2 separate regions of the Homo sapiens genome follow, and region 1 is linked to region 2. The links come from fine-mapping of genetic effects on gene expression. A gene starts in region 2. The other region holds a variant in brackets. All regions are shown on one strand. Distances are between the middles of the regions. Region 1 has its middle 66 kb from the start of POMP. Region 2 holds the start of FLT1 (fms related receptor tyrosine kinase 1).

Region 1 (9,052 bases), 98 kb before region 2:
AACAATTTAAAAAATTAGCCGGGCATGGTGGTGTGTGCCTGTAGTCCCAGCTACTCAGGAGGCTATGGTGGGAGGATGATTTGAGCCCAGGAAGTCGAGGCTGCAGTGAGCTATGACTGCCGCTGCACCCCAGCCTGGGCAAAGGGGCAAGACCCTGTCTTTAAAAGAAAAGAAGAAAAGAAAAGAACAGAGAACACAGAGAGAAATTAGAAACAAGCTTATTGCAGTTGCCAATTCTGTGTATCTCATGAAGTCCTGACTCTCCCTCTTTGGAACACTTGGGCCAATAGAGCTTAATTGTATGCTCAGTTTGATCATATTTTACGTGCAGCTTTAAAAAATATCATTTATTCATTCATTCAATAAATGAAAGGACGGACTCCAAGATAAGCAACTGCAGAGTGGGTGTGCCCAACCAGACCTCAACCCCGTCCCCAGTTCTGATTGTCTTCTGTCTAAAAGTTGTACGGACATTGTCTAATGCTGCCCAGTTGTGGAGAAAGGTGTAGGAGAGACAGCCAAAAGAGGGAGTGTCGCTTGGGCAGCCTGCACTTCCTCCATTTGACACAGAAATGGCCCATGAATTTCCTGTGGGTTTTCTAGACAGCTGAGAGGTGGCTAGACTTAAGCTACCTTAGGTACCCCACCGAAGGCCACTGTCCTTCATGCAGGGCCAACCAAGGAGCTGTGGTGAAGGCCGTAGGTGAACGCCAGCCAGAACCCGATCTTCACGCCGCAGAGCTGCAGTAGGGAAGGACATCTGAAGCGCGTCTAGAAAATCCAAAGATTGGTTCCAGGAGAGATCCAGCATGTGACCCCTGCCTCACAAGCAGTCAGACTGTTTGTGTCTGTAGCCCACAAGGCTACAGCGATCCAGGGAGAGGAGACTGCCTCCCTGCTCCGGGCAGCCCAGCAAGGAGCTGTCCCTGCTGCTCTGTTCCACCTTCTGCTGCGACCCAGGAGGGTAGGTCCAGGGGAGCTGGAGGGGAAAAATGTGTACCCGCCATGACTTTGTCTCCTATGTCACGCTGCTGGGGGAAGAGGAGGCTGACTTCAAGCAGAATCTAAGGTTACTATTTTAAAAGGAAAACTTTTTATTGGAGAATTTCAAACACAATGCACAGCTTTAAAAAATATCATTTATTCATTCATTCAATAAATGAAAGGACAGACTCAAAGATAAGCAACTGCAGAGTGGGTGTGCCCAACCAGACCTCAACCCCGTCCCCAGTTCTGATTGTCTTCTGTCTAAAAGTTGTACAGACATTGGCTGATGCCGCCCAGATGTGGAGAAAGATATGAGAGACAGCCAAAAGGGGGATTCTTTCTATTTCACAAAACAGAAAGAATAGTGTGCTGACTCCCGCCACCAAGCTTCAAGCTTCAATAATGACCAACTCAGCCAGTTTTGCTCATCCATACTTACCCTCCAACTTTCCCACCTCAATTATTTTTAAGCAGGTCTCAGACGTCAGGCTATTTTACCATAAATATTTTAGTAGATATTGCCAAAAGATAAGGACTTAAAATAGCCATTATATTCCTGAATATTATCAGATGTTCCCAGATTGTGCCATAATTTTTTATAGTTTGATTAAGAATCCACATAAGTTCTATACGTTGCACTTGATGTTTATATCTTTTAAGAGTCCTTGGCTGGGCATGGTGGCTCACTACTGTAATCCCAGCACTTTGGGAGGCCGAGGCGGGCAGATCACTTGAGGTCAGGAGTTAGAGACCAGCCTGACCAACACGGAGAAACCCCGTCTCAACTGAAAATACAAAATTAGCCAGGCGTGGTGACGCATGCCTGTAATCCCAGCTACTCGGAAGGCTGAGGCGGGAGAATCGCTTGAATCCGGGAGGCACAGGTTGTGGTGACCTGAGATCATGCCATTGCACTCCAGCCTGGGAAACAAGAGTGAAACTGTGTCTCAAAAAAAAAATAAAAACAAAAATAAATAAATAAAGAATCCTTTAATCTGTGGTTTCTTCTGCTTTCTACTTTATTTTCTTGCAATTTATTAAAGAAATTTGGTTGTTTTTCCTGTAGAGTTTCCCACAGTCTGGGTTTTGCAGATTGCTTCCAAGCGACCTTGTTAAGATGTTCCTCTGACCCACATTTTCTATAAATTGGTAGTTAGATGGAGAGGCTTGATCAGATTTAAATTGGTTTGATTTTTTGGCAAGATTATTTCACAGGTTATTTCTCTCTCTTTTTCGTTTTATTGTGGCAAAAAAAAAAAAAATGAAACCACATACCTAAAATGTACAATCTTAAGTATTTTTAAGTGTACGGTTCAGTAGCGTTAGTATCTTCACACTGTTTTGCAACCATCACCACCATCCCTCTCCAGAACCTTTCCATCTTGCAGAACTAAAACTCTGCACCCATTAAACAAAAGCCCCTCATTGACCCCATTCCAGCACATGGCAATCACCATTCTACTTTCTGTCTCTATGAAATTGGACTACTCTAGATACCTCATATAAGCAGAATCACACAATATTTGTCTTTTGGTGACAGGTTTGTTCACTTATCATAGTGTTCTCAGGATTCATGTTGTAGCATGTGTCAGAATTCCTTTCACTTTCAGGGTCTCCATTGTATGTGTGTACCTCATTTTGTTTATCCATTCATCCATCAATCTGCCCAGTCTTTGGCCGTTTACACCTTTTGACTATAATGCTGCTATAAACATGGGTGTGCAAATATCACTTCAAGATCCTTCATTTAATTCTTGTGGGTATATACCTAGAAATCAAATGACTGGATCCTAAGGCAATTCTATTTTTAGTATTTTGAGGAAACTTCAAACTGTTTTCCACAGCAGCTGCACCATTTTACAATTCCACCAACAATGTGCAAGCGTTCCAATTTCTCTGCCTCTGCTCCAACCCTTGTTTTATTTTTGTTTAATTGCGTACTTTTTTTGTTTTTTGATTAGCCATCCTCACAGGTGTGAGGTTATATTTTATTGTGGTTTTGATTTGCATTTCCCTAATGATTAGTGACGGTGACGCTGAGCATCTTTCATATGCTTGTTGGCCATTTGTATATCATATTTAGATAAATGTCTGTTTGAGTCCTTTGCCCATTTTTTTAATTGAGTTTTTGTTTTTGTTTTTGTTGAGTTGTTGGAATTCTTTATATATTCTGGATCCTAACCCCTTATAACCCCTTATATGAATTGCAAATATGTTCTACCATTCTGTGGGTTATTTTTTCACTCTTTCGATTGTGTCTTTTGATACACAGAAGCTTTTAATTTTGATTAAAATTAATCAATTTTAATTTTGATTAAAAGTCCCATTTGTCTATTTTTCCTTTTGTTGACTGTTCTTTTGGTATCATACTGAGGAAATCCTTGCTAAATCCAATATTGTGAAGCTTTTCCCTTATGCTTTTTTCTACAGTTGTCTTTTTAGCCATTATTAGTGATTATTGCCAAGAACAATGATTTCACCAGAGGTTCCAAAAAATGTGATATTCCAATTTAATCCTTCTTTCTTTATTAGCTGAAATACTTCTGTAAAGATAAATTTCCCTCTTTAACTACTGGGTTGTCCTGAGGCTCATTTTATGCTGGAAACATTTATTTTTTCTTTTTATTTACAAGTTTTCAAAATAATGTGTTGGTTGCCTAGTCATCCTTAAAAGAGGACAAATGAGAGAGTTTTTTGAAGTTTCATTGTGAACTTATACATTTAAGGATTTTAATGTGTTTAATCCACTGCAGTTGTTATTTTTATTGTTCAAACATTTCCATCTTTAGACAGAAGGAGACTTCATGCTGGCTCCTGGATTCTTTTGGCATGGGCCTAAGATTTTTTTTATCGATTCCTTGCTTTCTGTTATTTCAAGGTGTTTTAGACCTATTTAACAATTTGATGTCCTAGACAAAGAATTGACCATTGAGATAATATTTAAGTATAAATAGTAATGAGATTTTAAAATCTAGAATGAGACTACTTTAGTAATCTCAACATCGGCCGGGCGCAGTGGCTCACGCCTGTAATCCTAACATGTTGGGAGGCTGAGGCGGGCAGATCACCTGAGGTCAGGAGTTCAAGACCAGCCTGGCCAACATGGTGAAACCCCATCTCTACTAAAATACAAAAATTAGCTGGGCATGATGGCGGGTGCCTGTAATCCCAGCTACTTGGGAAGCTGAGATAGGAGAATTGCTTGAACCTGGGAGATGGTGGTTGCAGTGAGTCGAGATCACACCACTGCACTCCAGCCTGGGCAGCTAAGCGAGACTCCGTCTCAAAATAATAATAGTAATAATAATCTGGACATTGTGGAATTGGACTGAAGTATCCCAAGATTCTTGAGTATTGAGACTAGCATAATCAGGGCAGTTATGGAAAAACATGAACCGACTTCATGTTTATACCCCCAATGAATTGAAAATTCATAATGGGTTGATACAGACATCCAAGTGGAGAGGTCAAGAAGGCAGTTGGAGGCATAATTTAAAACTTAGTAGGAAGATCCAGGCTGAAAGCACAGATCTGGGAATTATCTTGTTGACTTATCTGTAAGTCTCAGGGATAGTTGAGATGCTCTAGAGAGAAAATGCTGAGGGAAAAGAGAAGCAGGCCAAGGACAGAGCCCTGGGCTACACCAACAGTTAGTCATTTGAGAAGAGGTGGAACCAGTGAAGGGATCCAAATGTTTATTAAGTTAGGCAGAAACCAGGACATCGAGGTGGTCCTGAAACCAAAACAAGAGTATATTTCAAGAAGGAAGTCAATTGTGTCCAAGAGAGAAGCTGAGAGGAAGACCAGAAAATG[G/A]CCGTTGCATTTGGCAAAGTGGAAGTCATCTGTGACTTTGACAGGAAGGGTTGCTGAGGTCAGTGGGGTTGGAGGCATCAGTGGAGTGTTTTGAGGCGGTGGACTGTGTCTTCACGGAGACTTCAAGGTAGTGGGCTCTCAGTTATCCCATGACATCAAGTGGCAGGTCAAGGCATCTCATTACCAAAGATCAGTCTTACACACAGGGAAGGAGAGCTCCATGTGTTCAAGCGGGCAGGCGGGCAGACAAGAGGGCAGCAAACTATGGGGAGATCAGGTCCACTCTTTATCTGCTTTTTTTCAAAACCATGGTTTTAAAAAACACATAACAGAAAACTGGCCATCTTAACCTTTTTTTTTTTTTTTTTTTTGAGATAGGGTCTCACCCTGTCACCCAGGCTGGAGTGCAGTAGTGTCATCTCGGCTCATTGCGACCTCTGCCTCCTGGGTTCAAGTGATTCTCCCACCTCAGCCTCCCGAGTAGCTGGGATTATGGGCATGAGCCACTGTGCCCGGCTATTTTTTTTTTTTTTTGTATTTTTAGTAGAGACGGGGTTTCACTGTGTCAGCCAGGTTGGTTTAACTATTTTTTAAGTTTCCAATTCTGTAGTGTTCATTAAGTATATTCACCTTATTGTGCAATGGATCTCCAGAACTTTTCTTCACTTTGCAAAACTGAAATTCTATACCCATTAAACAAAAACTCCCCATTCCCCCTTCCCCTCAGCCCCTAACAACCCCCATTCTACTTTCTGTCTTGATACATTTCACTACTCCAGGTACCTCACAACTTACCTCCTTATTTAAGAAGTCTGGAAGCCGGCTGCAGTGGCTCACACCTGTAATCCCAGTACTTTGGGAGGCTGAGGCAGGAGATTGCTTGAGGCCAGGAGTTTGAGACCAGCCTGGGCAACAAAGCAAGATCTCATCTCTACAAAAAAAAAAAAAAAAAAAAAAAAAGTTTTTAAATTAGCTGGGTGAGATGGCACCTGCCTATAGTCCCAGCTACTCAGGAGGCTGAAATGGGAGGATTGCTTGAATCCATGAGTTGGAGGCTGCAGCGAGCTATGACCCTGCCACTGCACTCCAGCCTGGGTGACAGTACAAAACCCCATCTCTAAAGAAAAAATAAGAAGCAAACTCAAATCTCAAAGAGCCATGTGTTTGAAGGACTCTGTGAAAGAACAGTTGGACTGTCCAGAGAAAATATAAGTGCAAGCTGCAAAGCCCAGACTGGGAAAGGTCCAGCTAATCAAGAGCAGCATTCTGGGGACTCAGAGATAAAACTGACCACTGAGGGTACCCTATGCTTCCCCAGCCCACGGCTGCGCAAGCCAAGGAGAGCCAGGTAGACTGCGAGAGGAGTAAGAGGCAACATCCCACACAGAGAGGAAGAAGCACCAGCCAGTGGCTGTTGTGAGGCGGCTTCTGCAGCTGCTGGAAAAGGCTCTGCTGAGAGGGCTCAGCTTGACTGGCCTTGCCTTGGAAACAAAGAGCGAAGGGTGAAAGAGAAGCTTAAAGTCCAAAACAAACATTGCACCCATCCTGATGAGGAGCTGGGTATTGCTAGGGCCTGATGGGCCAGCTCGAGGCCACCCTTCTTTTTTGGAATAATGCTCAATCCTCCTCCAGGAAGATGTCTGGGGAGGCCAGATTGGGTGGCTCTTTCAAAAGGGAGCCTGCCGCCACAAACTCAGGCTCATCTCTCAAAAGGCTTATAGAGCATCCGAAGCGAAGACGCCAAATGTTGCAACCAGCTTCTCAGAGTCTCCAGTCCTGGCGCAATAACATGGGGCGACCCAGTCTGAGTTTTCCCGGTTACCGTCTTCAAAGCCAATGCTAAGGGGAGGTAGTGGTAGGAGAACTCACTTGCTCAATCGGCTCACTCATTTGGTAATGCTAATGTGTGCATTTTAGCTGCCATGTCGGCTAACATTCAGTGTTGCAGTGCGGTGTTTCTATTCATGCCTAGTAACTGACCTGGGGCGCAGGAGCCCCAGGCTCTAGTCCCAATCCTGCTACCTATCAGCTGTGTGACTGTGGTCAGGCCACTCAACTTCTCTGAGCCTTGGTAGCAGATCTGTCCCACAGAATTGTTTTATTAAAGAAGATTTATATACCTAACGTTAACTTTTAACCATAAATGATTACCGAAAGTTTAGATTTTATGTTTGATCCTTAAGAATGCATTTTATCAAATTTTAATGAAGTCCTCCAGTGGCTTCCCATTGCCTTCCATTGACCTAAGAGTGTAAGTGATTTGGGGCCTGCCTAACTCTGACTTCATTTCTTACTCTCTTGCTGTCTTCACACACAGACTCTCGCCCCACTGAACTTATTTCTGTTCCATAAGTATTTCAGTGCTGTTCCCACCCCAGGGCTTTGGCCCCTGTTCTCCCTTCTGCCTGGAATCCTTTTCGTCACTCTGGTCCCAACTCAAATATCATTTCATCAGATCCATCAGATCCATCATTGTACGTAATGTTGCCCCCTGACCTCCTTACAATCTCTGTCCCAGTAACTTATTGTGTTTTCTTCATGAAACTATCACCCTCTTATTTCTGTTGGTTTTGCTTATTTATTGTTGTGTTCCCTATGAAAAGGGATATAAAAGCTAGACGTTTGCCTTATTCACTTCTGTCTCTTTCACCTAGAGTGGCACGTGGCTTATGGAGGAGTTTAATAAATATTCATAAGGCCGGGCGGGGTGGCTCAAGCCTGTAATCCCAGCACTTTGGGAGGCTGAGGCGGGCAGATCATGAGGTCAAGAGACTGAGACCAGCCTGGCCAACATGGTGAAACCCCGTCTCTACTAGAAGAAATTAGCCGGGCATGGTGGTGGGCGCCTGTAGTCCCAGCTACTCCAGAGGCTGAGGCAGGAGAATGGCGTGAACCCGGGAGGCGGAGCTTGCAGTGAGCCGAGATTGCGCCCCTGCACTCCAGCCTGGGCTACAGAGCGAGACTTTGTCTCAAAAAAAAAAAAAAAAAGAAAAAAAAAAAATTAGCTGGGCGTGGTCCAGCACCTGTGATCCCAGCTACTCGGGAGGCTGAGGCAAGAGAATCGCTTGAACCTGGGAGGCGGAGGTTGCAGTGAGCCAAGGTCGTGCCACTGCACTCCAGCCTGGCGACAGAATGCGATTCCATCAAAAAAAAAAAAAAAAAATCATAGAACAAAGTAATTACCACTAGGGAAATTCCATCAAAAAAAAAAAAATTCATAGAACAAATTACCACTAGGGAAATTCTTCCTATTAAATATTTAAGCCAGCACGGTGGCTCACGCCTGTAATCCCAACACTTTGGGAGACCGAGGTGGGCGGATCACCTGAGGTTGGGAGTTCGAGACCAGCCTGACCAACACGGATAAATCCCATCTGTACTAAAAATACAAAATTAGCCAGGTGTGGTGGCTCACACATGTTAATCCCAGCTACTCCAGAGGCCGAGGCAGAAGAATCACTTGAACCTGGGAGGCGGAGGTTGTGGTGAGCCGAGATGGTGCCATTGCACTCCAGCCTGGGCAACAAGAGTGAAACTCCGTCTCAAAAAATAAATAAATAAATTTTTAAGTAGGTTCATTCATGGAAGCAAAGTAAATTTCAAATAGTAATTTTATGTGACTAAGAATCCGGTTCTTCAGGTCCTTCTATACATTTTTTAAAAAAAACAAAAACTATACTCATATTGAATATATGATCTTGTAATCTACTTTTCTCAACATCACTGAATCTTTCTTCTGCAACATTTTAATGGCGCCATGTGGATGTACCGTAGCTTACCTAACCAATTCTCTGTGGTGCATATAATGAGAAATACTGCTTTGAAGAGCCACTAATAAATATTCCAAATGTCTCTCCAGAAAAGGTTTGCCAGTTTACACTCCTACCAATGAATAAAAGAGATTCATTTTCTGAACTCCGGCCAATACTGAATTTCATCACTAAAAAAAGGAAACAAAATGTTTGCTAATTAGATAAGTGAAAAAGGATCTCATTGTTGCTTCATTTTGCTTTTCTTTAATTACTTGTGAGTGTGGAGTGTTTTTCTTCATTTGCGATTTTATCATGTTGTATTTCCTCGCTTACAAATTATCTCTTTATGTTTTTCTTGGCTTCATTTTTTTAATTGTCATTGTTGGTTTTCTGTGTGGTATTCATCTTTTATTGATTTGTAAAGGCTATTTTTATATTAAGGTGATTTGCCTTTGTCACAGATTGCAAATATTTTCCCAATATGTTTGTTGTCCTTTAAT
Region 2 (9,052 bases):
GCAAGATAGTAGTGATACTGATTAGAGGAGGTTCCTAGAGATTACTCTAATTGGCCACTTTTCCTTTAGGCCTTATTTGCTTCTCTGATTTGCCGCTTCCCCTGCCCCATGCTTCTCTAACTATCCCAGTCTGGTCTTTTTGTTTTTTTTCCTTTCAACTTTTCTAGTATGCCTTCAATAAAATGTACCTGTCTTATTTTCTCTTGCTAGGACCATCAATTATTCCTAAATAATGACATGGTAAATGTGAATGAGTTAATATGCAGCCTCCTTTGGTGAACATACAGCTAGAGATAATGACACAAAGGAATAATTTGAGTCCTTCCTTGGTTTGCTCAACCTCCACAGATCTCTACTTTCATCCATCCATTCATTCATTCATTCATTCACTCACTCAGCTTTGTCCTTGTCAGTGATTTTGATGATGACCCAGAAGGCACGTTTACCGTATTTGTGGATCATTTGAAGCGGGAGCTATAGAAAGTCCACAGGATGGCAGAATCAGAGACCAGAAAGACTTCGACATGCTGGAAAGACAGACTAAAACAAACAAAAGGCTTAAACAACACGCTCAGGGCCTGCAGCCTGAGTCAACCCAAGCGGCGGCTGCACAAGGGCAGCCAGATAGCAGCTCTCATGAGAAAGCCTTGGGGCTTTAACCAAGAATAAGTTCTGGAAGAGTCCAAGGTATGAAGGCGCTGACAGAAAAGGCTCCTTTGATCTTAGGTCCCAGGAACAGAAGCAAGTTCTCTCCGTAGTAGCCCCTGGGAGTAGCAGGAGGAGAATTCCAAGTAAAGCCAATGGCGATCTTATAAACACCAGCAGCGCCCACCCATGCCCGGGAGAAGGTAGTCAGGAGCAGACGGGAGCATGAGTAGCAGGAACAGGAGGAGCCAGGGAGCCCAGGCCGGCGGCCCCAGAGGTGCCACCAGGGCAGTGCTGCCCTGCTCTCGGTGGCACTGGCCTTATCTCCAGGAGGGGGCTGTCCCCTTTGCTTCCTTCTCCACGCTGCTCTTCCCACCTGAACGATTTTCCTTCCTCGCTCCCACTGGGCCTTCCCACAGGCTTTTCTCTCTGCCTGAAAGAAAAACTACCTCTAGGAGTAGGGAAATGATAATTGTGCTGCATTTTCAATCCTAAGCGTGTCACCTGCAGGGACACTGATATGCTGGATGGAATTTCTGGAGCGTGTCAGCTGAAGAGTGACCAAAGGGATGTGGATGTTGAGGCTGGAGACAAGATGCCCATGGCACAGGAGGTGTTTTTAAGTGTTCAATAAATTTTCATGTGGAGATATTGGAGCATTGAATAGGAATTCCACGAATTGACTCGGTAGATGGGTTGAATGGCTTTTAAACCCAGTACAAGATGTTTAAGTTCTTTGAAAATGGGGGCATTTCAGCCACAGTGGTAGCTTCCCATAGCAAGACTTTTGAGCCAATGGGGTCATCAGCATCTGATAAGTAAACTCATACATGTGCCTGCCTGGTGAACTCCGCAGAACTTCTTAGCAGAGATTTGGGAGCGTGTGCTTTTTAGACCAAGGAGCCTGAACTGTCCAGAGGATATGTACTGTGAAGCTTTTTAAAATATAACACAGAAGGGTTTTATGAGATCATTTGGTTCTTGTATTCAACCATACATATTTGCATTATGCAGAGTATGCCCATAGAGTGTATTTTTCCTTTTGTATCAAGCTACCTAACCCAAGTGGAAAAGAAATTCCTGACTGATCCTCAGTGACTGTGGCTGATCAGCTCCATGCTTGGTCTTTGGAGGAAGGTGAGAGCCTGGGCTCCCTCCTGTCTCTCACACTGGTGCTCCAACACTCTTATTCAGTCTCGAATATTAAAGCTGATGGATTTAGCAACAGTGTGCTTCTGAATAGGGGTGAGAAAGAAACCTCAAGAGAATGTTTGTAGCTGATAACAAGAGAGAGTGTCTGGTTTTGCTAACCAAACAGGAGATGAAATGTTCTTTTGTATGTGAGCAGGAAGCAAGCAGATTGCCTACTTCAATAGCTTTTTATACCCACCAGGCGTGTTGAATTCCATCTTCTCCATCAGTATTATCTATAAAACCTCTTTCATTAGTGATTTAGTTAGGAGAGTGCTATAGCCCATTCTCATTCAAAGGTATTATCTCTTTTGGGGAGAGGATTGGGAGCTATACATTTATTCCCCATATCTAAGCTAAAATTTGTAGCATTTTTGAGTTCTTTGTGAGAACGCTAATGCAACTAACAAAGAAGTCATAGTCAATAAATTGCTGACTCTAATTAAAAGCAACTTTTCAAAAGAGTAGTTGGGAAATGTGGAAGCCCACCCTTACTGCAGCATAGTTTTAATATAAATCTTAGATTCGACTGTGACTCTACTAACCTTAAATAATTGAGCAACATGTTAATATCATTGATTAGCATCTTAGATTATAAAGATTGTTTCAGCTGTCCATCAAATACCTGTTCTGGCTTTACAGACACAATGTAGATTCATTGCTGGCAGCAGGTTTGGAAAGTGTTGTCTCTTTATGAGTTAAAAATATCAAAATGGCATTTGAAAAAATGTATTAGCAAATTAAACCTTTGTACATGGTACTATGGACCACTTTCCCCCAGAGTCAAATGTGTGTCTCTCCTGAGAAGCCCTCCTTGGGTTTTCCCTGCCAATAAATGTGCCTTTACTTCTCTGAGCTGATGGAGGACTAAACACCCCTCCAGCACTGGAATGCCGGTCCTGCAGCCACTTCAAGTGTCCACCTTCTTATCACAGTCCAAGCCCTTTAGAAGGCAAAGATGATGGCTCTCCATCAGTGTTTTCAGCCCTAACCCAATGCCTGGCCCCTGTTGAATGCTGCAGAAGGACAATGCTGACAGCTTCTCCTTGAAAGAGGGTGTGGGAGTGACAAGCAGCTCTCAGGTGAGACCAACAGACACTGTGGCTCCGCACGTATGTCCCAGGCTGTGTTCTGGGCTGGGGGACCAGCAAGGAGAAGGATCAGCTGTCCGCTTCCAGCTGTTCTGAGGGATGATGCTGTGGGTTTTAGAGGAGGCAGGGGTGCGGGAGGCAGAGAAAGGCGCCAGGAAGAGTGGTGAGGAGAACTGGAAAAACAGAAAGCGCTGGTGAAGCCAGCAGGCAAGCAATGACTCCGGCAGTCTTCCTTGCCTCTGAAGCAGAAGGGATCCAGGGACAGTTAGTGGCTCAGGTCCTGCGGCTCCAGGTGCCCAGACGTGCATTTCCTGTGTGGAGTGGCCGGGGCCTCTCCTTGGTGTGCAGCCCAGAAATGTGGCAACTTTGGGTTACCCAACCTTCCTAGGCGGGGAGGTAGTCCAGTCCTTCAGGAAGAGTCTCTGGCTCCGTTCAAGAGCCATCACAGTCCCTTGTATTACATCCCTCTGACGGGTTCCAATAGGACTATTTTTCAAATCTGCGGTATTTACAGAGACAAGACTGGGCTGCTCCGTGCAGCCAGGACGACTTCAGCCTTTGAGGTAATGGAGACATAATTGAGGAACAACGTGGAATTAGTGTCATAGCAAATGATCTAGGGCCTCAAGTTAATTTCAGCCGGTTGTGGTCAGAGTCACTCATCTTGAGTAGCAAGCTGCCACCAGAAAGATTTCTTTTTCGAGCATTTAGGGAATAAAGTTCAAGTGCCCTGCGCTTCCAAGTTGCAGGAGCAGTTTCACGCCTCAGCTTTTTAAAGGTATCATAATGTTATTCCTTGTTTTGCTTCTAGGAAGCAGAAGACTGAGGAAATGACTTGGGCGGGTGCATCAATGCGGCCGAAAAAGACACGGACACGCTCCCCTGGGACCTGAGCTGGTTCGCAGTCTTCCCAAAGGTGCCAAGCAAGCGTCAGTTCCCCTCAGGCGCTCCAGGTTCAGTGCCTTGTGCCGAGGGTCTCCGGTGCCTTCCTAGACTTCTCGGGACAGTCTGAAGGGGTCAGGAGCGGCGGGACAGCGCGGGAAGAGCAGGCAAGGGGAGACAGCCGGACTGCGCCTCAGTCCTCCGTGCCAAGAACACCGTCGCGGAGGCGCGGCCAGCTTCCCTTGGATCGGACTTTCCGCCCCTAGGGCCAGGCGGCGGAGCTTCAGCCTTGTCCCTTCCCCAGTTTCGGGCGGCCCCCAGAGCTGAGTAAGCCGGGTGGAGGGAGTCTGCAAGGATTTCCTGAGCGCGATGGGCAGGAGGAGGGGCAAGGGCAAGAGGGCGCGGAGCAAAGACCCTGAACCTGCCGGGGCCGCGCTCCCGGGCCCGCGTCGCCAGCACCTCCCCACGCGCGCTCGGCCCCGGGCCACCCGCCCTCGTCGGCCCCCGCCCCTCTCCGTAGCCGCAGGGAAGCGAGCCTGGGAGGAAGAAGAGGGTAGGTGGGGAGGCGGATGAGGGGTGGGGGACCCCTTGACGTCACCAGAAGGAGGTGCCGGGGTAGGAAGTGGGCTGGGGAAAGGTTATAAATCGCCCCCGCCCTCGGCTGCTCTTCATCGAGGTCCGCGGGAGGCTCGGAGCGCGCCAGGCGGACACTCCTCTCGGCTCCTCCCCGGCAGCGGCGGCGGCTCGGAGCGGGCTCCGGGGCTCGGGTGCAGCGGCCAGCGGGCGCCTGGCGGCGAGGATTACCCGGGGAAGTGGTTGTCTCCTGGCTGGAGCCGCGAGACGGGCGCTCAGGGCGCGGGGCCGGCGGCGGCGAACGAGAGGACGGACTCTGGCGGCCGGGTCGTTGGCCGCGGGGAGCGCGGGCACCGGGCGAGCAGGCCGCGTCGCGCTCACCATGGTCAGCTACTGGGACACCGGGGTCCTGCTGTGCGCGCTGCTCAGCTGTCTGCTTCTCACAGGTGAGGCGCGGCTGGGGGCCGGGGCCTGAGGCGGGCTGCGATGGGGCGGCCGGAGGGCAGAGCCTCCGAGGCCAGGGCGGGGTGCACGCGGGGAGACGAGGCTGTAGCCCGGAGAAGCTGGCTACGGCGAGAACCTGGGACACTAGTTGCAGCGGGCACGCTTGGGGCCGCTGCGCCCTTTCTCCGAGGGAGCGCCTCGAGGAGTGGCTGGCCTGGACCCGCGAGCATCAGCGCTCAGACCGGGTCCGCGCTGGGGCTGTCCGTTTGCGACAGGATCGCTGATCCCTTATCCAGCTGTCGGGTTGGGGTCTCACTGCCGAGGCCCTGGGCACTAGGAGCAGCACGCACCGGGACCTGCCTGGCACCCAGAGCCCATTCCCAGAGGACCTGGGGCAGGTACGCAGGGTCCCCCGGAGCCGGGAGCAGAGGCTCCTGAAAGCCTGCCAGGCTGCCCGGGGCTGGGCTGAGGCCGGGACTTTGGTGATATTGGGCACTGGCCGCGACCTCGCGTCACGAGAGTGTAGGAGGGGAGCCGATTTGGAGGGGACTCGTGCCTGCGGGGGAGCAGGAGGATCTCAGGAGAGGGCCAGCGCCGGCATCCCATGACCCGCTTGAGTCCCCAAGCCGGACTGTCCCGGGGAACGCTCGGCGAGCGCCCGCTCCTCCCCGCCGCTCTCGGACCGCGGGGCCCCAGTGCGCTGCGCTCAGCCACCCGGGTGGGGCCTCTGCCGGGAGCAGGCGTGGTGCGCGGTCCAGTCCGTGTCGCGGACATCAGTGACCCTGACCCACAAGGGCAGCCCAGGGCCCAAATACCGTTAACTTACTGACTTACAAGCCTAGCCTTTAAAATCCGAGCGAAGAGAGGGCGGGCGATTTTGACCAAACGATGTGGTTTGAGGAATCGATGAGGTCCGCCCGCCACCTAAGTCAGCCTTCGCTGGGCGTTTGGGAGACGGGCGGTGGAACAGTCAGGGGCCGGGGGTTTTACCAGCAGTTAGACCGCCGCCATTGAGGGGTCAAAGCCCCGAGGAACTTGAGGGTTCGGACTCGCAGTCTCTGCTCAGTGGGGCTGAGTGGCGGAGATTTGTGCCTCGTTCCCCTGGGCGCAGAGAGCCAGATTTCGGAGCGCCTTTCTTTTAAGCATCGTGGAGAAAAGGTAAAATATGAAATAAAATATAGTAATATAAAATAAGTCATTGCAATGATTCCCGGGAAGAAAAGTCAATAGGATGGAGCGTAGTACAACAACAACAACAACAAAAAGCTTGTTAAACCCAAAAAGCAGTAATAATTAAATATTCTTTCTCAGTGGGAAGACTAACTAGACCGTCAGTTTCCAAGTAACAAGTAATAGTTCCAATTAGATTGGAGAAACTACTAAACCCGGAGACAGGGCGAAGTGGTAACTTCTGAGAACTCACTGTAGGTTGGGAAAGGTGCTAACATAACTATATTAAATAAAATGTTGTATTTTCTATTTCACAAATACATTTTTTGTTTTGAAAAGTCACTTGTATTAAAATATAATTGCTTAGAGAATTTAAATACCTCACTCGACTATTATGTAAAGATAAATCTAGCTAAATTACATGAATCTAAAATTACGGAGGGAAAAGTACGTGATTTATTAGATTTTCTGCTTCACATAATTATATCTTTATTTTGAAAACATGCTGACTTTAGTGAAGCATCGTTTTCTTTGTAATTGGAAGCATCTTAGATCAGTGGAAACTTTACAGAAATGTGAGTGGGATCCTCTTGTGATTTTTCTTAGATTATAATTTACTTAAATGGGGCAGCAGTTTTGCAACTCTGAATTTCTTTTTTTTTTTTATTTGCACTTTTTTGGGAAGAAAGGACTAACATTGGCAAGCTGAGAACCTCTTTACCTAACAGTTAACAGAACACTCTGTTAGTTCATGTTAGCTCAGTCGGCATCATGGGTGCTTTTGAAAACTCATAGTTTCTCTGTCTGGTTAACAAGCATCTCACAGTAAAACAATCAGCTACCGCCTACTTTACAAACCGCATCAGGGCTTTCATGCTCAACTGAGAGGCTGCATATCCGGGAAGCAATGTCTAGTAAGAAGCCACGGTTCCCCACTGCAGAGTTCTCTTGCGTCATTATGAACCTGGGTCTGCCTTCCTTCAGGTACTATGTAATCTTTGAATACTTATCAGCTATTAATATTCTGTGTGTGTGCATGCCTGGTGTGCACATGCATTGAGAGGTAAAATAACCAGAGGCTCAGTATTACAAAAAGATAATGCCTTTCCCCTCTAAAGCGCTTATTTACCTCTTCCAGACATTCTGGGAAATAAAAAGATGCCAATAATTCAGATACTTTCAAGTCCTCTCTATTGCTCTTTCTCTATAAAGGATACCAGTCCTCTTTCTCCAGCTCTGAGTCTCATTTCTTACTTTTAAGGTATCACAACCTGGATGAAAGCTACAGACCTTTTTCTTTGCCCTCATTTTTCTTGAGTTCTTGAACAGCTAACATTTACAATTTACTATAACTAAGTGGAAATACTGAAATTGTGAATTTTGTGAAGGAAGTCCATATTAATAATATTAAATCAAAGTGCACATGAAAATACCTATTTCAAATTGAATGTAATAAATCTCTTATAATAAAGTTAATTTTTTGTAACAATTTTTGTTGTTTTCTCCAAGGTTTTATGAAGCTGCACTTTTTTTTGGTCTAAATTGCATATTCGAAATATTAATTATTTAGGAGCTTTGGCAGCCTACAGTTTTCCAACTGAAGCATCATGTTACAAAGGAACTGTAGGTGACTACTTACTCCAGTTCCTCAAATATTGTTGCTTACTATTTTAGCACTTTGTTACATTTTTAAAATTTCCCTGTTGGACATTCTATAATAGGCTATCTGGTTTCTTTTCTAACGATCACCAAGTGGGTACTTTGTTTTCGTATGTAAAATGAAGACGTTAGTATAGGTGGTTGATTTCTAAGGCCCTTTTCTGACTCCAAAATTCAATGAATGATTCCAAGAAATGGCCTGAACACCGTGTCTGTCTTTCTCTTTTCTCTTCCCCACCTTATTTATATTTGTATATAGAGTGGATGAGAAACCATATGATGCTGGGGCTGTTAGGATGAACTGGGTTTCCCCTGCTAATCACATTAAACTTTCTTTTTCTTTAGTAGCATGTACCTAAACAGCCAGTCAATTTGGCCTTGAATAGGCTGTTTTGGAAGAGATGGGCTGGTAGAGGATGCCTGAGCCAGCAGTCATCTTTATCTTGGGCTTTTTTCACTAGCAGAATGTATAACTCTATAAAGTAGATGCTCCCTCAAAACTCTAGTTGCATTAACTCTTCTAAGGATAGCAGTCATTTTAAACCCCTATTTATTTCTTGAATTTTTAAAGCTAACACTTATTTGATTAACAGAATGGCTTTATTCTTTTAAAAAAAGTTCCAGATTTTAACAGGGATACTAAACCCCTTATTTAAAATTGAGTCTACTTTACGTGACTTTTAAGAAACAAACCAAGTAATTACTTTGTTCTTTCCAAAAATGATCGAGACATTTCTAAGTCTACTTTAAATTTATTTAATATGGAAGTTGAAGGTGATGTGTTACCAAAAAATGGTTTCATATTGACCAAAATAATGTAATGTCCTCGAGGAAGGTTATGCAGCCTATTGAGATCTACACAGCAGAGTTATGGCTGATATTTGACCTGGCTTGGGCAGTTGGGCAAGACAAGAACAAATAACAGAGTAAGTAGCTTCTGTAGTGCTTTAAACTGATATGTGTATGTGGGTGGGGATAAGAATGGAGAAAAAGTGAGAGAAGCTATCTTGGCACGTGAATGTTAAATGCGAAGCCTGCTGGTGTTAGTAGAGGCCAGGCGTGTCTAATTCTTGGTTTGGATCTCACAGTTAGGGGTGTGTTGGGTATCAAGTAAATATCATCATTTTTCAGTGCATTTGTCATTGCAGGTAGGGGAGGAAGGGCATTTGAAATCATACCAGACTTTTTTTTAAGTAAAAATATATTACTGTGAGTAGTTAAAAGTATAGACCATCTGTGGCATTTGGTTTAAGCAATTTGGTAGAACCGAACAGTCCATTCTGCTCCATTGGCCTTCGTTTATAGGAGAGGCTTGTAAGAAATGACAAGATCTCCTGCCAGATGCTTTCCAGGATCACTGGTGGTTCCTCACACTCTTGGGTGCTGTGGAAATTGCA

Evidence for each region. PIP is the estimated chance that this variant, and not a neighbour inherited with it, causes the effect.
Region 1: its variant is fine-mapped to the expression of FLT1 in whole blood (TOPMed, PIP above 0.99).

The regions. Positions count from the first base shown.
Region 1 is chr13:28,588,194-28,597,245 of GRCh38, reverse strand. No RefSeq gene overlaps it. Among named protein-coding and RNA genes, the nearest start is that of POMP, 66 kb to the left of the region's middle. The variant G/A (reference allele first, on the strand shown) is at 4,801.
Region 2 is chr13:28,490,556-28,499,607 of GRCh38, reverse strand. It overlaps FLT1 (fms related receptor tyrosine kinase 1), which reads left to right and starts at 4,480. Exons shown (of 30, transcript NM_002019.4): 1 at 4,480-4,828. The coding sequence starts at 4,765. RefSeq lists silencers at 4,575-4,624, 4,745-4,864, 4,945-4,994.